3 linked regions of the Homo sapiens genome follow. The protein of the gene in region 3 interacts with the protein of the main gene of each other region in a biochemical or structural test. Each region holds a gene or a part of one and is shown on either strand. Other genes may lie near its edges. The genes, in order: CAPN2, NOS1AP and PTPRN.

Evidence for each region.
Region 1: of the proteins of PTPRN (region 3) and CAPN2, one has a biochemical effect on the other in vitro, tested with the Homo sapiens proteins (one study listed by BioGRID).
Region 2: the proteins of PTPRN (region 3) and NOS1AP form a complex in vitro, tested with the Homo sapiens proteins (one study listed by IntAct).

Annotation. Positions count from the first base shown.
Region 1 is NC_000001.11:223,750,529-223,757,634, reverse strand, and holds part of CAPN2 (calpain-2 catalytic subunit), read right to left. Parts: intron 6,746-7,106; coding exon 6,660-6,745; intron 5,639-6,659; coding exon 5,564-5,638; intron 4,840-5,563; coding exon 4,679-4,839; intron 2,156-4,678; coding exon 1,986-2,155; intron 267-1,985; coding exon 255-266; intron 1-254. UniProt on the Homo sapiens protein: Calcium-regulated non-lysosomal thiol-protease which catalyzes limited proteolysis of substrates involved in cytoskeletal remodeling and signal transduction. Proteolytically cleaves MYOC at 'Arg-226'.
Region 2 is NC_000001.11:162,072,643-162,079,748, reverse strand, and holds part of NOS1AP (carboxyl-terminal PDZ ligand of neuronal nitric oxide synthase protein), read right to left. Parts: intron 1-7,106. UniProt on the Homo sapiens protein: Adapter protein involved in neuronal nitric-oxide (NO) synthesis regulation via its association with nNOS/NOS1. The complex formed with NOS1 and synapsins is necessary for specific NO and synapsin functions at a presynaptic level.
Region 3 is NC_000002.12:219,306,373-219,313,877, forward strand, and holds the start of PTPRN (receptor-type tyrosine-protein phosphatase-like N isoform 1 precursor), read right to left. Parts: upstream 3,030-7,505; 5' UTR 2,961-3,029; coding exon 2,846-2,960; intron 2,599-2,845; exon of another isoform or gene 2,510-2,598; intron 1,471-2,509; coding exon 1,420-1,470; intron 1,186-1,419; coding exon 1,072-1,185; intron 1-1,071. UniProt on the Homo sapiens protein: Plays a role in vesicle-mediated secretory processes. Required for normal accumulation of secretory vesicles in hippocampus, pituitary and pancreatic islets.

The sequences.
Region 1 (7,106 bases), on a different chromosome or scaffold from region 3:
AAACCCTGTATGGGCTCTGCCAGGTCACAGGGAGGCAGCGGGTCCCACAAGGACTTTCCAGAAACCTTGCCCAGAGCTTAGACCAGTGGGATCTAGAGCCTGGGCAACTTCAGCAGGGCCCCAGGGGTGGCCAGGACTCATCCTTCATGACCACCAGCCCCTGCCCGGGCTTCACGACGCTCCCTGAGCTCCAGCAGTCTAAGCCTCTCGCTTTTTTGGTGACCTGAGCACCCCGGGACATGGGCCAGACGTACCTCCTCTGGAACCTGCAAAATAAAGGAGATGCAATTCAGATGCCGGAAAAGCAGTGTAAGAAAATGCATCACTGTGCTCTTCTCTTCCGCTGCCCCCGTTTTCTCTGTAGCATTAGCAATATCAACTAATTCAACCGAGTAACTGTTTTCCAAGGAACTCAAAGCCTCTCCAACACTGAAGAAAATCCTCTTATGTTGATAAGCCCTCACCTCCCTTCCTAACTTAGAGTATAAATCTCAGGCATGGAGATGTGAAGAGACTTGTCTAAGGTGGCAAAGCCCATATCGGCCTCCCACGCAGGGAAAGAGGGCCAGGCGGGCCCTGTTGGAGGAGGCAGCAGGCGAGGTGAAATACACCTGGGGCTAGGAGCCAGCAGTGCCGGCCTCTGTCAGCCAGGTCCAGTGGTCCGGTCTGCATTTCCTTGAGCAAGTCCCCTCTCCTCTCTGGCCTCAGTTTTCTTGTCTCAAAAATAGGACCCAGTGATCCCCAAGGTCCGTCCCAACTCTGAAAGCCCGTGGCTGCATTTCCAAGCCCATAAGCCGGTGGGAGGGAAGCTGTGTATCACAATTCCATTTGCATTGTCCTTGGATCGATTCTGTCCCAGATCCGAAGTCCTCAGCTCCTGTTTCAGAGACGGAGGGGTTTAGGCCTATGTGCATTTTTACAACTGATGGTATTTGCCCAGCTGCCTTTCTCAGGTGGGTGAGCAGGTAGAAGTCAGTGTTCCATGGGTGGCAACGTTGCCAGTGGTGAGCACAGAGCCTCCTCTCCTGACACCTCGTCTGGATTCTCCCAGGGGTGTGCTGGGAAACTGGCTCTTGGGAGAGGGTGGAAGCTCTGATTTGTACTATTTGCCACTTTCCATGGTGTAAACAGGTCCCTGCCAGGGCCATTTTTCAGGCTGCTGAAGGACCTCAGCAGACATGGGTCAGAGAAAAGAGATGGGCTTTGGGAGCCGGGAGGAGCCAGCTCCAGCCCATCAAACCGAAATGCATCCCCAGTCAGTGCCCTAAAGCCTTCCTTTCATCCCTCTCCTCGCATGGCTACCTGCAGCCCACGAAAGCTCTTTCTTGTTTTGCAGAAGGGAGTGGGGAGAGCCCAGGGGCCCAGCGTGTTGGGTGAGTTCTCAGTGCCCCAGCCCCAGCCTGAGGGCGGAGAGGAGACTGCAATGCGGCTGCCCTCTGGCTGTGGCTCAGAGTGAAAGGAAAACACGCATACAGCAGGAGTCTGTGTAGGGATCTGGGCTCCAGCCATCAGAGCCCTGGGGGGAGCATCATGACCAATGTTCCCCTGTCCCCAAGCTCTCCACCATCCAGGCCAATGACTTTGCCGAGCTCTGAGCAGCTGCACCCATGGACTCAGTCCTGCCCTCACAGTATTGCCTGATGTGGCCCAGTATATTCTGTTCTTTGAAGATGGGTAGGCTGACCAGAATGCCAGGCCTGGAGGATGTGAGAAGGGATGTGGAGGCCATTTGAGAGTGGAACTCCCTGCAGGCTGGCTGTGGGGGGCCCGTGAAGGGCTTAGAAGGCCCCACAACCCAGAGCCACTGCAGGGGCCTCCCTACGGGGGCTACTCCTGAGCCTGGCCAGGCTGGTAGTTTTGTTTTTCCTTGGCCAAGCTCCCGGTCTGGGATCCCATCCCCAGTTCTGCCTCTGGGGTCAGCTTTCCATGCAGGGGCTGAGATGAACACATGGGGAAGGGAGGGCAGGAGCCCCTGCGCTCTGCACCTCATAGATGCCAAAGCCGATGGTGTGCATGTCCTCGCCCATCTTCCTCTGCCGCCGTCGGTGCTTCTGAATGAGCCCCACCAGGAAGGTGCAGCCGCTCTCCCCATCCTCCTCGTCCTCATCCTCCTCCTCCAGCTTGATCAGGTACTGAGGGTTCATCCAGAATGTGTCTGCAGCCAGAAAGGGGCAGAGGAGCCCAGCCCTGAGCAGGAATGCATGGGGGTGGGGGGTGGCCCTGGTCTCAGGCTTGGAGGCTTCTGAGAGGGATGGAGATAAAGGGAGATGGTGGGAGGTGGTGGGAGATGGTAAGAGGTGGTGGGGGATGGTGGGAGATGGCAGAGTATGGCAGAAGATGGTGGGAGACAGCGGGAGATGTCAGAAAATGGCGGGAGATGGTGGGAGTTGGCAAGAGGCGGTGGGAGGCTGTGGGAGACAGTGGGAGATGGTGGGAGATGGCAGAGGATGGCAGAAGATGGTCAGAGACGGCAGGCGATGTTGGGAGAGGCTAGGAGGTGGGAGACACCAGGGTTGGAGTGTGGACTGCAGGCTTTGTTAGGCTGGAGACGGGTGACGGTAGCTGTGGAGAGAGGATGACCTGCACTTGTCTGAATCTAACAGGAACCTAAATTAGAAACTTTCTCTTGCAGTTCTCTCTCTGGCTCCAGGCTGGCTTGTCTTGGGGACTGGTCTGTCACTCTGGAACGCAGGGTGGTTAGAGCTGTGGCTTCCCCTCATGGTACCTTCTCTTCACTGGGCTCTGATGGGGAGCCTGGGGCGGGGCTCGGCTGGCCTGGGGGACTCCGGGATCTGCTCCCTGCACTTGCCGGTCGCCGCCCCCTCGGTGAGCCCGGAGGCCAAGAACATCCTGTGTATAATTCCAGACTCTTTCTTGTTCTGCGTCCCTTGTCCTCTCAGGCCTATTCCCTTGCCCTGCTCCTGATGTCTCTGCCCTCTTTACTTCCAAAACCTATTTATTTAAAAAATCTAAGATTCATTCATGTTTAAGGGGAATTATGCTAATTGCCTTTCCATACCTAATGGGATAAAACCCTAACTGTGAAATTACAGGCACCATCTTGTGTAGGGGTTGGCAGCTATGGCTCCGAAGGCCGCTGCCTGTTTTTGTAAATAACGTTTTATTGGAACGTAGCCACGGCCATTCGCTTAAGTATGGCTGCCTTTGGGTTATAGCAATAGAGTTGTTGTTATAGAGACTGAGTGGCCCACAAAGCCAAAATTATTTACTATCTGACCCTTTAGAGGGAGTTTTCCGACTCCTGATCTAGTGGGTAGGAGGGGTCCCTTGTGGGGGGCAGAGGGCCTTCCCAGCGCCTCTGGGACTGCCACTTGGTGGCTGCATACTTGAGGTGAAGGAGTCCGAGCCCCAGAACTGTAGGCCAGCTAGCCGCAGTCTGACTACTTGCTCTGTGGCCCTGGTATGCGACTTAGAGGCTCAGCTTCCTCATCTGTCACAGAGAATCACTATGTGACCATGATCTGCTGCCACTGTACTTACACAGTGACTCCTCAGTCAGGGGGCCTGGGTTCAAATCCCAGCACGCTCTGTGGCCTTCAGCAAGTCACTAGCCTCTCCAAGCCTCAGTTTCCTCATCTTAGAGATGGAGGTGATAAGAAAGTGCCTGCCTCAGAAGTTTGTTGGGAAGGTTAGATAGAATGTTATGCAGGCTGAATATCCCTTATCTGAAATTCCTGGGGCCAGAAGTGTTTCCTATTTTGGATTTTTTTGGATTTTGGAATATTTGTATATACATAACATATCTTAGGGATGGAACTCAAGTCTAATGACAAAACTCATTTCTGTTTCATATATAATTTATACACATAGGCTGAAGGTAATTCTATAGCATATTTAAAATAATTTTGTGCATGAAACAAAGTTTTGACTGTGTTTTGACTGCGACCTGTCACCTGAGGTCAAGTGTCGAATTTTCCACCTGTGGTATCATGTTGGGGCTGAAAAAGTTTTGGATTTTGGAGCATTTCAGATTTCACATTTTCAGATTATGGATCCTCACCCTGTGTACAAAACACTTAGGATAGTTCCAAGCACTGAAGGTGTGCCCCATAATTGGCAGATGTCATCATGTTCAGACAACTGCTGACGGACTAAGCCATGAAGGCAGAAGAATCAAGGGGCTCAACAAAGGCTGGACCAGAGGAGAAATCTTCACCCCATCTGGGCAGCGCCCAGTCAACATTTGCTGATTGAAGTGAGTATGGGGCAACAAACAGGGCCTGATATGTGGAGGGCTCCCTGGGTGCCGGGACAAGGTTCCCTTGTAGGCTCGGCTGCCTGGGTGTGGGGTGCATAGAGCAGCTCATGGCCGTGAAGTGGGATTGAGCACTGCTTCCGTGAGCATGGCGGAAGGTCAGGCTGAAGGTCATGATGGGCGCTGGGGAATCTAGGGCCTGGAGAGGACATCACAGAAACAGTGGCTCTTGGGTTTGTCCTGGGTAGGGCAGGAGGTAAGGGATTGAGAAAGAGAGCTCGGGGAGAAAAGGCTCAGGGAAAAGAAAAGGCTCAGGGAGAAAGAAGACAGAGAGGGTTCCAGTGAGCAGGAGCTGCCTCCTGGGGCTGCTAGGCTGGGGTGTGGTACACAGGGTGGGGTAAGGGGAGCTTTGGCCTTTGGTGGCCCCGCATTGCAACAGCCCTTATATGCAACAGCCCTTACTCGGGTAGTTCCTGCAACCTCCCGCGGTGGAGCCCCGCCTCCAGTTCCCATCCATTTTGGTGAGTTTCCACTTCTTGTAGGTATCGCTGGTGAGAGTGTCTGGGGTCAGGTTACAGATCTCCAGGCGGGAATAGTGCCTCAGGAAGTCACTGAAAGACATCCTGGCAAAAGCAGAGACAATCATCACAGGTGATAAGAAGACACACTGGTAAGCCTTGACTTTCCACCAACACCAGACCAGGAGCCACCCAAAGCCAGGCAGAGCAGCTCATTAGAACTGAGTGGATGGGCACCAGGTTCAGAATCAGAAGGCCCAGATTCCAGTCCTGGCGCTGCAACTTTCTAGCTGGGTGACTTTGAGCAGGTTACTTAAACTTCTCTGAAGCTCAGAACTCTCACCTGCAAAAATGGGAGCCGTGCCCATCAAATGTGACAATATATGGGCCCCATTTGATAAAGAGCATGTTGTGTCCAGGTGCAGGTGGTTATAGAGTGGCGCAGACACACAGACATGTGGGTCCATTGCTGCTCACTAAGGGACCAGTTTCTTAAGGGGCTGGGATGAGTCTCCGGAACCTGGGGGAGAAAGGCCCCATCTTTCCCTTGTTTCCTGGGATCTGAACATTACCAAAGGAATTCCTCTTAGCCTTTTTCTGAAGCTGCTCAGCTTATAAACCCCATTGTCAAGATGGACCGTTGAAGGGGCTTAAGAATTTCTTTATTCAGGCTCTTATAGTGAACTTAAAATAACAAAACCAGGATCCCACACGCTTGTGTCCTCGACATGGTAAACTCACTTTGGCCGACACTCTTTCTAATTAGCAGTTTTCTAGTAAAGAACATTGGGGCAGACAGAGCTTTCCCTGAAGCCTCCACTAATCTTACCAGAATTCTCCATCTTCATGCCGTCTGGTCAGCCTTTCCCTCTCCTCTGGGTCTATAGTGTTCCAGCTTGGGCAGCTGGAAAACAAAGTAAAGAGAGAGGCGTTAGTGTACGATGATTTCTCCCCAAAGGCCCCAGAGTTGAGGAAGAGGGACATCTGCTCTCACCTCTGAGGGCTCAGGCTCCAGAAAGGGGGAAAGTAGCCCACATCTGGCTAACAGCTGCATTTTAATACTCTTACAGCACTTTAAAGAGTATAGAACACTATACAGATGCAAACCAGGGAGCAAAGTGAGCGGGTGAGTTGTGCTGGAAGACAGTGGCAAGGAAGAGTCCAGAAAATGAACATAGTTCATTAGAGGGAGATGGAGTAGCTCAGAGCAGTTGCCCAATTGAGATGGGCCTGGCAGCTCTTTTAGAGACAACTGAAGATCTGATGAGGAGCCTCCGGCTGAGGCCTGGGAAGCCTCAGCAGGTGTCTCTCTGTCCACGGAGCAGAAGGACCTGGCCCTGTACACAGGGGCAGTGCACAGGGTAAACTAACCACTGCCTGAGCTTTGGCTGGAATTACACACAGGCCTCTGTACTGCCCACCTCTCCAACCTGAGGCAGAGCAAGTAGGCTGAGGTTGCCACAGCAGATGTACAAACAAGTGTTTACCCCAAATAGTTGAGGGTTCAACATGCCTACCAGTAAGCCCTGGAAATCAACAGAGGGATGTTTCTCTGGCCTTTGGTACAAAGTTCACATCCCTGTAATAGAAGTGCCTGGGGGAAGGTGGGGTGTATTTTTTTCCCTGAAAGCCCCATAGAAGGGTGGATTTGAGCTAGGGAAGGGGTGAACCTGGAGGCAGTGGCAGGAATGAACTTCACACGAGCAGCTTGGGGCCTGGAAGAAGGCACTCAGGCTGCTGGAGGAGTGTCCTGGTTAAAAGACCCTTTGAGGGGCCCCTGTCCACGGGTCCCTGTCCACGTGGCCTGGGCTCTCCTGGCTATATTTCTCAGAATAATGCACATGTCTTCTTCTCTCGCCCTCTTCCCAGAGCCTCCCAGCACAATGCACCCCCGCCTGGGGCCCCGAGGCCTGCGCCCTCCTCACTTGTCATTCCACCGCCCTGTCCACTCCACTTCTCCCCAGGGATTTCGGATGCGGATCAGTTTCTGTAGGCTTCCGTTACTTTCAACCTGCAGGATTAGATAAAAGGGAGGAGTAAGAGGTTGAGTTCAAGTCAGGGCTATGAAGGCTTGGGCCTCCAACCCCCTTCCGCATGAGCCAGGAGGTATGGGGCTGAGGACGGTGGGGAGGATTTGGGGGTTGAGTCCATGTATGAGGGAGGATCACAAGAGCTAGAGGGGGCTTGGCACCCAGACCTCTCACTGCTGCCTAGCTTTGGAAAATGAGATTTAAAGCTCCCAGGATCCGGCTCTCGAGGATGGGGCTGTTGGTGCTTCATCTCTGAACTTCAGCTTAACTGACAGGATGCGCTTTTGGTAAAGGAGCTCAGAGAAGCTTTACCATTTGTTGAAAGATCACTGGTGATAACAG
Region 2 (7,106 bases), on a different chromosome or scaffold from region 3:
ACAGATGAAACTAAATTGCAACTTGTAGGACTTAATAACAATAATAAAAACAGCAGCCAACTCTGTGTCATGCACGGTGCTAGGCCATTTACAGGTACTACTGATTCAATCCTCCCATTAACCCTACGAAGTATGAGATATTTGTATCCTCTTTTTACAAATGAGAACGCTAAAGGAAAGATGTTACATAACTCACACAAAGTCAAGTAGCAAGTGAGGGATAGAGCCAGGATTTGAACCCAAACACAGTTTGGCTCCTGAATTCATGCCATGCTATGCTACCAACCAAATTCATGTCATAAAAATTGCAAAGTAGCAAATTACAGAAAATAAACCATGAATTAGGAAAAAAAAAAGACATCAATTCATTAATGAGAAAACAAGTTGAAAATGTTTCTTACATAAATGACAATTGAGAAATGACAATTACCTACTCCTGAAATTGGCCATATGTTCTATATTCAGATTCTAATTCCACTGGACATCCATCAGTGGAATTTTATTTAATTCAGGAAAAAAAAATGCTTACTTGGTATTTTCATTGGAAGGAATCAGCACTGTGTGAGATTGGGGGTATCAGAAAGAGGCCATGCTGGGGGGTCCCTCAAGCCACTGGGAACCGGAAGTTACTAGACTAAAGCAAGAGAAATGGTGGGGAGGAGTGGAGAGTCAATTAAGGCACCTCTCACCATTGGGTGACCCAGGAGGGTCCTGGCCATCTTATAGGGATCATCTCTTTCATTCAAAATACATTTTCTATGTGCAAGGCACTGTACTCAGGGCTGTGGAAGACACGGGGGCAGAGTGACATGGACCCTGACAATGACAATGTAGGGATGAAAATTGGACAGGACAAGCAGCTCTAATACAAAGCAGGTGGGACTGGTAACATCCACTTCACAGAGTGACTTGTGAACGGGGTGGGAAACTGCAGTGAGGGTTAAGGGAATGGTGGGTACTACAGTTGGGTTGAAGCCCAGGGTGATTAAAGGGAATTGTTCAAAAACAGCCTTGAATATCATACTAAGAATTTTGGTTCTAATATAGTAGGTACAGAAACTTTTCATGTTTTTGAGTGGGAGGATAACCATTTCAAGAAAATTGATAGGGCAAAAGTTTAAGGGATGAGGGGGATCAGAGAACAAGTGGGACACTGGAGGCCTTCAGAAGGTTATTGATGGCCCTGATAACAGGGGAGGGGGTGGAGCATCTGAACGGGTGATGGACCAGCCAGGGTGGGTGGATGGATGTCACTGGGAACATTCAAGAGGATTTGGCACCTAACTTGATGTGGGGTACAGGAGAGTAGAGCCTGGACATCATAGGTACCCAGTAAACAGCAAATTTGAGTTGGCTGTTAAATCAAAGAATACAAGGGGTACTTTAAAGTGTCAGGCCCATGTGCCCAAGAGGATGGTGGGGTCGTTAAAAGACAATGAAGTCAGAAGAGAAATTTGATTTCCAGCTTGTTGAGTGATAGGGACAGCAACACATTCAGGTACAGATGACCAGCAGGAAGCTGCGCATAAAGATGTGGAGTCTGGACTGAAGTAGAGAGCCAGCAGCCTGCATAACAGAAGAGTGGGAGTAGATAGAATCCAAAGGAGAGGGAATGGAGCACTCACAGTAGAGGGCAAAGGGAGGAGGTAGAACAGCCACAAAAGAAGGAGGTATGGGCAGGGGCAAGGGGCTGGCTGACTGCAAGCAGGCACAGAGAGCCCAATGAGGCATTCCACAGAGGACTAGGACAGGCAGCTCAGGAAGAAAAGTCAAAAAGGATGAGGATAGAGAAGGGGGCAGCAGAGCAATTTCAGTACAGCAGCCAGGACAGAAGTTGGAAGGAAGTGGCCAGGGACTGAATGAAGACTGAGATACTGCAGAGGGTGGAGTACTCTCTCACAAGGCTTAGCTGTGAAAGGAGGAGAAAGACAACATGTTAATTAAAGAAAGAGGTGGAAAGAAGAGGTATTTCATACAGGGAAGGCCATAGCATACTCTTAGGCAGGGAGGAGTAAGCCAGTGCCCAGGAGATGTAACTGTGCCAGGGTGGGGGTGGGGAGTGAAGGGCATAATTAAGAGGACAAGGGCAGACTAACAGGACATGGAAGGCAGATGGATCTCAAAATGAGGGAAAAAGAAAAAAAATTGGACTTCACCAAAATTTAAAACTTTGTGTTTCAAAGGACAATACCAAGAAAGTGAAAAGACCACAGAATGGGTAAAAATATTGCAAATCTATATAAGGGATTTGAATCCAGAATATATAAAGAACTCTTACAACTCAATAGTAAAAAAGCCAATCCAACTTTTAAATGGGCAAAGGATCAGAATAGACATTTCTCCAAAGAAAATATATAAATGGCCAAAAAACACATGAAAAGATGGTCTTTTTTTTTTTCTCTGAGTCTGCTTCCTAGGGAATGAGGAGACATTCTATGTTGTTCAAAAGGGAAATGCAAATCAAAACTATGATGAAATCCCACTTCACACCCAGGAGGATGGCTAGAATCAAAAAGTCAGACAACAAGCATTGGTGAAGATATGAACACACTGCTGGTGGAAAGGTAAAACGATGCAGCCACATTGGAAGTCCCACAAATGGTCACACATGGTTACCATGGGACCCAGCCATTTTACTTTTACCCAAGATAAATTTTAAAAAATAAAAATAAAAACATGCCTGCACAAAAACTTGTACATGAATGTTTATAGCATTATTTTTAAGAGGCAAAAATGGAAACAACCTAAATGTGCCTCAGCTGATGAATGAACAAACCAAATGTGGTATATCCATACAATGATATATTATCCAGCCATATAAAGGAATTAAGTACTGATAAATTATAGATGAACCCTGAAACACAACACTAAGGCAAAGAAGTCAGACACAAAAGACCACATATTGTATAATTCCATAAATATGAAATGTCCCGAATAGGCAAATCTAGAGACAGCAAGTAGATTAGTGGCTGTTCAGGTCTGGGAAGACGCAGGGGGTAAGGATTACAGGTGTGTGCCATCATGCCCAGCTAATTTTGTATTTTTAGTAGAGATGGGGTTTCACCATGATGGCCAGGCTAGTCTTGAACTCCTGACCTCAAGTGATCCACCCGCCTTGGCCTCCCAAAATGCTGGGATTACAGCAGTGAGCCACCGCGCCCAGCCTAGTGTTTCTTTTTAATGTGATGAAAATGTTCTAAAATTGACTGTGGTGCTGGTAGTACAGATCTGTAATATCTTAAAAATCACTAAATTATACATTTTAAATTAGTGAATTGTATGGTATGTGAACTACATCTCAATAAAACTATTAGAAAGGAGGGAACTCAATAGTAAAAAGCCAATCCAACTTTTAAATGAGCAAAGGATCAGAATAGACATTCTCCAAAGAAAATATATAAATGGTCTTTTCCAAAAACAGAAAGGAAGAAGAAAAGTAGCAAAGATCAAGTTTGCAGGGTAGGGCAAAAAGGCAGGAAGGAACGGCCATGGGCATGGTCCCAGGCTGCTGGGGAGGGTAGACAGCAGGACAAGGGCAGCAAAAAGGTCACTGAGGAGCTAAGAGCATCCTCAAGGCAACAAAGGTATAAAGGGAAGGCAGGTAATTATAGCCAGCGAAAGCATTCTGAAAGTTTGAGTCTTGGGAGTAGCTGCATTATGAGTAGGCAATAGTAAACAGTGAGTCAAGCCTGATTAGTATAGATAACTGGCAAAGGTCATCATTAGATGTGGCTGCATGATTTTGACCACTAAAAAGGACTGGGACATTGTGGGCAAAGGAACTACGACTGAAAGCCATAAAATCATGAAATGTACAGCTAACGTGGAAATAGATTTGTCCATCAAATCCCAAGATACCAGGTGTGGAGGAACATACTGGGACATCTGAGAGCAATGTAAGGACAAATAAAATAGGTGTCATTTCAGAGCAGTACTGTATCTTTGGAACTCACTGCCCCCCACCAAAAAAAAAAGTAGTCTGGGCAGAAGATAAGTGTTTTTAAAAGCATCTGGAAAAGCATAAGAAAGTGAACTACGTCTCCTCCTTAATGATGACATCAGAAAATACATCAGACCCTTAATCTGAATTGCTACTGTTCCAGAACCCTGGAAGACAGGACCCTTAGTCTGGGTGGAGAGAAGGGAGAAAGGGGACATAAACACCCAGTGTATAGTGGAATGGTTCTGAGAGCTCTGTACCATGCCATGCAGGCTCAGACGAGTCAGGGATACCCCATTTACGGTGACCAAATGTCATTCATCTGGAGGCCTTCATGGCCGTATGTTTAAGAGGCATCCACAGATATCCTGCTGAGGTTACTGGAATCTCTAAAATCCACATCAGGGAAACCATCAACCAATGAAGCCAGGTAGCAAGGAAGGAAATATAGCCAGAGAATTCAGCTTCAATCTGACCACATGCTCCCAAGCCACAAAATCACTCAGCAATGATATTTACTGCTTTCAGACTTTCCACAATTGGTCATTTCTTCCACTTGACAATTTTTCATTGTGACTATGTTTGTACCTGATGTTGAGGCTTGGGAGGGGGAGATACACCAAGGCATGAGGCAAGGTCCTCAAAGAACATTCCATATCACCAGAGAAGATATATGCAGAGAGGAAAAAACAGAATTTTGTGTGGTAAACAGCTTCAGCAATATCTCTCATCCCACGTGCAATCTTGCAATGTGAACTTGACATTCCCCCATCAAGAAGTAGGGCTTATGTCTCTTCCCTAATAGCCTGTTTTGACCAACAGGATGTGGCAGAAGTGACCCTATGTAACTCAGAAAGACCCAACCTTAAGAGCTTCTGCTTTCCTGCTTGGAACACCCCCTACTGAAAACCAGCTGCCAAACAAAAGGGCCACCATGCTGTGAGGAAATCCAAGCCAGCCAGTGAAGAGAATAGTCACATGAAGGACGACCAAGGCACAGTCATATGAGTGAAGCCTTCTTGAACATTCCAGCCTAGCTGTGGATGAATGCAGCAAAGTGAGTGATCCAGTCAACGCCATAAGCAACAGAAGAACAGCCCAGCCAAGCCCTGCCTGAATTCCTGAGCCATGATTCATAAGCAAATTAAACAGTTATTGTTTCAAGCTACTGAGTCTTGAGGTCGTTTGTTTTGAAGTGATGGATAACTGAAACCAGTTTGAAGCCAGGGAACCAGGGATAAGTCCTGGTTCTGTTATTATCTGACTATGTGACCTTGGGTCCATGACTTCCCCTCCAAACTTCAATTTCCTCATCTGTACAATGATGGGGTGAGGGGGTTGTACTAGATGAGCCATGGTGCTTTCCAGTTCTGACCATCTGTATCATACACGCAGATATAAGGGAACAATCTAGGCAATGAGTGTTAGGACTACAAAGGGAGCAACTATTAATACTTCAGGTTTGAGTGAGCCTTGGAGGAGGTGAAAGAACCATGGACCTGGAGTCAAAAGCCCTGGAGTGTGAGGATTAAGTGAGGCAGAGGCTAGAATAATGTATGGCACATAGTAAGTGCTCAATAAATATCATTAACTGATACACCAATTTGCAACTCTGGACAAATTAATCTCTCTGATCTCCATTTTTTGGTCTGAAAAATCGAGATAACACTAATGTGCCTGTGCCTGTCTCTATAAGAGGAAAAGTCTTTGTATGTAGAAGTCCAATGCAAATCAAAAATCACCTACAGATATAAGATATAACTATTATTAATACTCTTATTATCCTTTGTACCCATAGCATTAAAAGTCTCTTTCTCACCAAGAGAGGAGAGACAGTCAGTTGATGGCACTGGCCACCAGGAAGACATACTGGGAGATCAGGAGGCAGTTACTAAGGAGCCACAGGCTCTCAGGGCATGTGAGATTTACCCACCCACCAGCATCAGTCAGTAAGCCAGGTACCCACTCTGAACACAGACAACAGGTTTCCCTGGCAAGCAGCTCTCAGCCCAAAGGGAAATCTGGAAACAGCCAAGCATTAAAAGTTTGAGCCGGGCGCAGTGGTTCACGCCTGTAATCCCAACATTTGGGAGGCTGGGGCAGGCAGATCACCTGAAGTCGGGAGTTCGAGGCCAGCCTGACCAAAACGGAGAAAGCCCCATCTCTACAAAAAATACAAAATTAGCTGGGCATGGTGGCGCATGCCTGTTATCCCAGCTACCCAGGAGGCTGAGGCAGGAGAATCACTCGAACCTGGGAGTTGGAGGTTGTGATGAGCTGAGATCATGCCATTGCACTCCAGCCTGGGCAACAAGAGCAAAACTCCATCTCAAAATAAATAAATAAATAAATAAATGTTTGAATAATTTCCTGTACCAGAGTTCTAGAGGCCAGCAACCTGAGAACACTCCACTAGAGAGCTGTGACTCAAACCCGTGGCCAACATAGAGTGAATATTCCATAAAAATTATTGAATGAAAAGGCACTGGATTTGGGAGTCTGAAGTCAAAGCCCCAGGCTTAAATCTTGGCTTTGTCATACACAACTGTGAGCACTAAGGCACGCAACAACCTCCCTGAGCCTATGTCCTCGTTTATAAAATAGACATAAGGAGACCCATCTCCTAGGGAAGTAGTGAGAATTAAATGAGGTACTGCAGGTGAAAAAAATCTGGGATTGCACTTGATAACTAAATGCATGGGTTTTTAAGTGCACAGAACCTCTGCCACCCAGATGCCCTTCGATCCTAACCCCACACCTTTCAATCTCTGCAGAACCCTGAAAATGAGTGGCATACTTCCAAAGGAACACTCAATCCAATGTTGATTCTGAAAAACTGCCAGCCCTTGGGAGAGAAAGAGCTGCACTCATTTTCCAAGGGTACCCGACAAGGCAACAATAATACATTTGCATTTTCCAGCCTGCATTTTTCCAAAACAAGGGAAGACTGCGATGTGGATTTAACCCTGAAATCCCAGTGATTGTGCAGTTGCATAGACACTGCTCTGCAGGGATGTGGAAAACAGCCAGAGAAGGCTCTTACCAGGAGCATGTAGGACAGAAAAGCTCGTGCTTCCACCTCTGCTTAGGTCTTGACTAACATGGTGTTTGAATGTGCCAGGGTGCAGCATCAATTACAAAGATCTGGGAGTTAGGACCTGGTCCT
Region 3 (7,505 bases):
GTGAAAGCAGTTTATTAGAGAAGTGAAGAAACAAAAGAATGGCACTCCATAGACAGAGCAACCTATTGTGGTGGTTTTTAGTGGTCCCCCTCACCAACTCTTGACTCCATCTATTCTAGTCTCACTACAGCAGCAAAAGTGATGCTTGTCAAGTGTAAGTCAGATCATGTGCCCCCAAGCTCCAAATCTTGTAATAGTTTCCTTCTTTACTCAGAGTAAAGCTAATGTCCATACATTCCCCTATGAGGCCCTAAAGTGATCCACATCCCTTCCCCCATTACCTACCTGACCTCACCTTCTACTCTTCCTCTCCATCAGTCTTCTACAGTCCCCTGGCCTCCATGGTGCTCTTCAGAATTGTGCTTTTGTCCTAACTGTTTGGTCTGCCTGAAATACTCTTCCCCTAGATAATCTTCTGACAAACTCCCCCACCTCCTTAAAAAGTCTGTTCAGATTTCATAGTCTCAATAATGTCCACCTTAACCACCTGATTTCCTCATTTAATACTGTAGCTTTCTACCTCACCATTTTGATCACTTTATCCTGCTATAATATTATATGCTATTTATCATCTTCTAAGACACTATGTATTTTCTAACTTTTATAGCGTGTTTCCTCCCCTTATCCCCCAAACAGAAACTCCAGTAAGCAGAGATCTTTGTTTTATTCCCGATACATTCCAAATACCTAAAACTATGCCTGCTACATAGTAAGTACTCAATAAATACTTGTTGAATGAGGAATTGGGTGAGTGGAATATTATCCTGGCTGAGGATTCCAGAGTTCTTGGCTCTGTAGCACTCAGACAATGCCAGTGAGAGGAACTGGTCCTAAGAAGATGGAAGCTGGCCTTTTCCAGTGACTTCTTCTTAGAAGGCTCCTCTGGGCTTCTCCAGAGAGTCCAAATGTGAATAGCCCATCTCTAGGGTTCCACCTCTTACTCTAGCAAGATATGGGAAGGTGAGGCTCCAGCAGTGGGGGTGATAGGAATATTCCTTGAAGAGAAATCTTCTTCCCCACCCATAACTAACCAAGTTCCAATCTCTCTCCTCCAGTGCACCCAGACCTTACCTTGGGACATGAGTTGTCGGAGCACACCTTGTAAGCGTTGGAGAACTGGGGAGGTGACTTGCAAAAGGGGCCGGGCCTGCCCCACTCCCACCTGGCACTGCCCAAACAAGCCATCTAAGGGCACAAAAGTGGTGTCAGCAGGGGGCTTGAATAAGAGGCCTTCCAAAGTCCAGGTTGCAAATGGACTGTACTCTCTTCACTTTCTCCCCTACCTCTCCTCCTCCAGGCAAGTCTTCCTTCTTCTCAAGCCCAGTAGCCCTCTTCCTTTCTGGGCCTTCTCTCCCCTTCTTGTTTTTTATTGCCCCTCTCCCCCCGATCTTGTGAGTTCTATGCTTGGGCCTCACTCACCCTGAATACAGACTTCCAGGTGAGAGCAGAGCCTGCGGTCAAATAGACAGCCTGTAGAGGAAAAGGTGAGCAGAGGCTCAGACACCCACTCACAGAGAATGGGCAGATGGGTGGACAGGCTGGGAACGGGAGAAGCAGATGCAATTTATTCTTTCATTCTAAAGAAGGCCTTAAGCTGGGAGGAGAGTAGGAATCAGGCCTGAATTTCTTAAAAGGAAGCATGGGATCTTGTTTTGGATTTTAAGAATTTGTGAGTCTGTATCCTTAAAAGCCTCTGTTTGCTTAACTGAGTGATAGGGAAGAAACCTTCCAGGTGCAGGGAGAGAGATTCATAGAATTACTGCAGGAGAGGTTTTGGCCAAATTCTGAAAGAGGAATTTCCTTCCCAAATATGGAAAAGCATCCTATAATGGCCTGGAACTCAGAAGAGGTTCTAGCACACTTCCCCCGGTCGGGGGAAAGAGGGCATGGGTGGGGCTGGGGAGGGTGTCTCTTAGGCATCTCTCCTCGCGCTGTCCCGAGCCGCTGGCGCTGTCCGCGGTGCTGAAGCTCTGAGTCTGGCGCCGCCAAGGGCTGGCCTTGGAGGCGGTTACCAGAGAGGAAGGGGTCACAGAGCGAGGACTCTCCACTAGACCTGAGCCCTCTGTTGTATTCTGCCAACCCACAGCGTCACAGGAAGTACTCTGCCTCTCGGGCCTCCAAGCCCGGGTGGGGAAAGAGGGCGCCAGGCGGCGAGGCTGCGCCCCTTCCCCCACGCGCCACCCTCCCATCCCCCACCCCCTGTCCGTGAGTCAGCGCTGACTGTCTCTGTCCGCACAGATGTGAGTCAGCACCAGGCCTGGCTGTGGGGAGGGGGACAAGAGAGGACCCTCCCCTCTTCATCCTCTTCTGCCCCCTCCCCGTGCTGTCCCCCGTTACAGGAGATCAGATCGCTGCAATCAGCTTCTCTAGGCTTACGGAGAAACCCTGGCCTCTCTCTCTGCCCAGCTGGGACTCTATGTCTGCGGCCCAGGCTTCCACTGCCCAGAGATCACCGTTCCCTCATTCTCCCCGCCACCTCCCCTTCCCATTCCTCAGCGCCTGTCACCACCTCCCAGGCGCCTCGGAGCAAGTGGCTTCTCCTGTGGTCTCGCAGCCGGTCTCTAAGTCCCTCTGCCCACATGCACCCCGTGTCCTTCTCCCGAACCTGCAATTTTCCCCAGAGCCCAATTCTCTTAGGTCCCGCCCCCGTATTCCCAGCCCCACCTCCAGGCCTACGCCCCTTTCCTCCGAGACGCCCTCTCACCTTCCTCATCTCGCATGCCTCCCCCAACCCATATTCTCCCCGAGCTTCATGACATTTCACCCTCACCCCCACCGAGTTTCGCTCCAGGCCCCAAGCTGCTCCCCGCCCCCCACCACCCGCCAGCCCAAGTTTCCTCCTGACCGTGGGCACTAACGGCGCTGCAGCCCCCCGGGCGGCTGCTCAGCAGCAGGAGGCAGAGGAGCAGCCGGAGACCCCCGGATCCCCCGAGACCCCCAGGCCGCCGCGGGCGCCGCATCTTTCCGAGCTCCGGGCGCTCGCTCCCGGGCCGGAGCCGCAGCGACGCTGGCGGGAGCCTGCCAGAGGGGCTGAGGCGGGGCTTGCCGCTCCCCACCTCCCTACGAGGCGGGGTCTACATGCCCCTCTCGCTGCAACGCGGCCAACCGCAGGCGGGTGCTGACGACACCTCCACCCCCGGCTCGTAAGCTAATTTGCGTCACATATGGCGTAAGAGCCCTGTCGGAGCGGGGGACCTACCTAGCCCATCCCTCCTCCATCAAATAGTAGGCGCCTCGCTAGAATTCCCACTTGGCCCCATCCCTGTAGCCCTCTTCTAGGATCACCTCTGTCTCCCCGCCCCAGGGTGGGTGAAAAGGGTTAAGTTAAGTGGGGGGCCAGGAAAGATAGGTGGGTCCAGAACGATAAACCCGAAGACAAGAAGCAGAAAAGTGGGTAGAATAAGTACTCTTACTCATTGTCATTGAAGATACTGTTCTCTTCCTTAAGAAAAAATGGTTAGGCATGCCTAGATTCCAGTTCTAGCAGGGCATCTACTAAGGGTATGACCTTGGGCACCTTGTTTAACTTGTCTGCGTCCAAGTTTCCTGATCTGCAAAGTGGAGGTGTTAATAGTTACTACCCGCCTCACACAGTGATTGTGAAGATTTTGTTCGTTACACTAATATGGATCACTTAGAAGGATGACTGGACTGGTGCATACTACATGCTCCATACATATTAGCTGTCATCATTAGCTTTTATTTATTTTTTATTGAGATGGAGTCTTGCTCTGTTGGCCAGGCTGGATACTGGCGTGATCTTGGCTCACTGCAATGTCCACCTTCTGGGTTCAAGCCATTCTCCTGCCTCAGCCTCCCTAGTAGCTGGAATTACAGGCGCACAGCACCTTGCCCGGCTAATTTTTGCATTTTTATTGGAGATGGGATTTCACCTTGTTGGCCAGGATGGTCTTGAACTCTTGACCTCAGGTGATCCAACGGCCTTCGCCTCCCAAAATGCTGGGATTACAGGTGTGAGCTACCGGGCCTGGCCTCATCATTAGCTTTGACTCTCCTTTCTCTCCGTCTGTGCCACCTCGAGGCTATCAATCATTTTATGGTTTCTCCCTGCAAAATACATCTCCCATCAGTCCACTTCTGTCCATCCTCACTACCTGAACTGAAACACTGTGCTCTTTCACCACGACCACTGCAGCAATCAGCTAGTAACTGCTCTTTTGCTTCCACTCTAGTCATCCAATAAGTAGGGGAGTGAGCTTCTTAAGTTCAGATTTGATCTCCTTCCTCTCTTGCTTTCCAGTAAAATAAAATAAAATTTAAAAAGGACAGAAATGCATAATGAATACTTACATACTCATCATCCATACTTAATGGTTATTGATGTTTTACAATATTTGCTTCTTTTTAGTATTTAAACATGAATGATAGACATCATGACATTTCTCTTCTAAATATTTCATTATGCATCTCCAAGAAATAAGGACATTTTCCTGCATAACCTAAGTGCTGTTATGACACCTAAAAAAATTTACAATAATTCCTTAATATAATTTTTTAAATTTTTTTTTTTATTTTTTTGAGAAGGAGTCTTGCGCTCTTTTGCCCAGGCCAGACTGCAGTGGCACTATCTTGGCTCACTGCAAGCTCCCCCTCCCAGGTTCACGCCATTCTCCTGCCTCAGCCTCCTGAGTAGCTGGGATTACAGGTGCCTGCCACTGCACCCGGCTAATTTTTTGTATTTTTAGTAGAGACGGGGTTTCACCGTGTTAGCCAAGATGGTCTCGATCTCCTGACCTCGTGATGCACCCACCTCGGCCTCCCAAAGTGCTAGGATCACAGGCGTGAGCCACCGCGCCCGGGCATTCCTTAATATAATTTAATGCTCAGTTCATATTCAAATTTCTCAGATTGTTTCCCCAAAAATGCCTTTTCTTTTCAGGTGTTTTGTTCAAAATAACAGTCAATTAAGAACAACCACGGCCTTTGTTATGTTTCTTAATCTCTGTAAATTAGCATAGACACCATATCCTCTCTCCCCTCCCCCATTTTTGACATTGTCATGTTGATAGACCAGGTCAATTTTTCTTTAGAACTCTTCTTCTGGGTTTATCTGATTTTTTTCTTCATGTTGTATTTCCCTGTATTTCTCCAGTGTATAACCTGTATATCACCTGTATTTCCTGTAAACTAGAAGTTATATATGAAGTATTGACTGTATCAAATTAAAGAATTTTTAAAGCAAAATGCCTCTCATTGCATCATTTCAGGAAGTACATGATGTCTGACTGTTCTATTAGTGATGTTAAAATTGATCACTGGTTTAAGGTAGAGACAGCCAGATCTCTGTATGTAAAGCTGTGGTTTTCTAATGTGACCAGCATGTAATTCTTGGATGATACTTTGGCACTGTGAGACTATCTAGTTCCTCATCAACTTTTCACCTAATGGTTTCACTATTCACTGGTGATCCATCCTTGACTAAATGATTTCATTAGAGGTTGCAAAATGGTGATTTTTATAATCCTATCATTCAATTCACGTTTATCGCTTATTTTACTTTGTAAAGAAGGGCTTTCTCTCATCAACTGGGTTTAGTTTACACTAAAATGCAATTCCAACTGGAAAGGTAACATATATTCTCAGCTTTTTCTCTTTACCCTTCTGCAAAATAATGAGTCTGTGTAGTGTAGTGACCTCTAACAGTGACTAATACATTTTTAAACATTTATTTATTTATTTAGAGTCAGGGTCTCACTCTATCACCCAGTCTGGAGTGCAGTGACAAGATCATAGCTCACTGCAGCCTTCAACTCCTGGGCTCAAGCAATCCTTCTGCCCCAGCCTCCTGAGCAGCTACCATTGTGAGCAACCATGCCTGGCTAATTTTTTTTTTTTTTTTTGTAGAGGCCAAGCACAATGGCTCATGCCTGTGATCCCAGCACTTTGGAAGGCCGAGGCAGAAGGATCACGTGAGCCCAGGAGATTGAGACCAGCCCGGGCAACATGACGAATCCTTGTCTCTACAAAAAATACAAAAATTAGCTGGGCGTGGTAACACGTACCTGTAGTCCCAGCCAGGTGTGGTGGCTCATGCCTGTAATCCCAGCTACTCGGGAGGCTGAGGCAGCTGAATTGCTTGACCCTGAGAGGTGGGGGTTGCAGTGAGCCGAGATTGCGCTATTGCACTCCAGCCTGGGTAATAGAGAGAGACTCCGTATCAAAAAAAAAAATTTTTTTTAATCCATTTTTCTGCTGATGGACATTTGGGTTGTTTCAGGTTTGGTAGTATTATGCATAATGCTATTGAGAGGTGACAGCATGCTGGCAGCCCTCACAGCCCTCGCTCGCTCTCGGCGCCTCCTCGGCCTTGGCGCCCACTCTGGCCGAGCTTGAGGAGCCCTTCAGCCCGCCGCTGCACTGTGGCAGCCCCTTCCCCGGCTGGCCAAGGCCGGAGCCGGCTCCCTCAGATTGCGGGGAGGTGTGGAGGGAGAGGCGCGGGCGGGAACCGGGGCTGCGCGTGGCACTTGCGGGCTAGCGCGAGTTCCGGGTGGGCTTGGGCTCGGCGGGCCCCGCACTCGGAGCGGCCGGCCAGCCCCGCCGGCCCCGGGCAGTGAGGGGCTTAGCACCTGGGTCAGCAGCTGCTGTGCTCGACTTCTCGCCGGGCCTTAGCTGCCTCCCCGCGGGGCAGGGCTCGGGACCTGCAGCCCACCAGGCCTGAGTCTCCCCCTCCGCTGTAGGCTCCTGCACGGCCCTAGCCTCTCTGACGAGCGCCGCCCCCTTCTTCACGGCGCCCGGTCCCATCGACCACCCAAAGGCTGAGGAGTGCGGGCACATGGCTCGGGACTGGCAGGCAGCTCCACCTGCGGCCCCGGTGTGGGATCCACTGGGTGAAGCCAGCTGGCCTCCTGAGTCTGGTGGGGACTTGGAGAACTTTTATGTCTAGCTAATGGATTGTAAATACACCAATTGGCACTCTGTATCTAGCACAAGGTTTGTAAACACACCAATCAGCACCCTGTGTCTAGCTCAGGGTTTGTGAATGCACCAATCGACACTCTGTATCTAGCTAATCTGGTGGGGAGGTGGAGAACTTTCGTGTCTAGCTCAGGGATTGTAAATGCACCAATCAGCACCCTGTCAAAATGGACCAATCAGCTCTCTGTAAAACAGACCAATCAGCTCTCTCTAAAATGGACCAATCATCAGGATATGGGTGGGGCCAGATAAAGAATAAAAGCAGGCTGCCCCACCGGCAGTAGCGACTCACTCGGGTCCCCTTCCACGTGGGGGAGGATTTGTTTTTTTGCTCTTTGTATTAAGTTCCTGCTGTTCAGTTGTGGGGTCCACACTGCTTTCATGAGCTGTAACACTCACGATGATGGTCTGCAGCTTCGCTCCTGAAGCCAGCGAGACCACAAACCCACTGGGAGGAACGAGCAAGTCTAGACGCGCCACCTTAAGAGCTGTAACACTCACTGCGAAGGTCTGCAGTTTCACTCTTGAGCTAGCGAGACCAAGAACCCACCGGAAGGAAGAAACTCGGA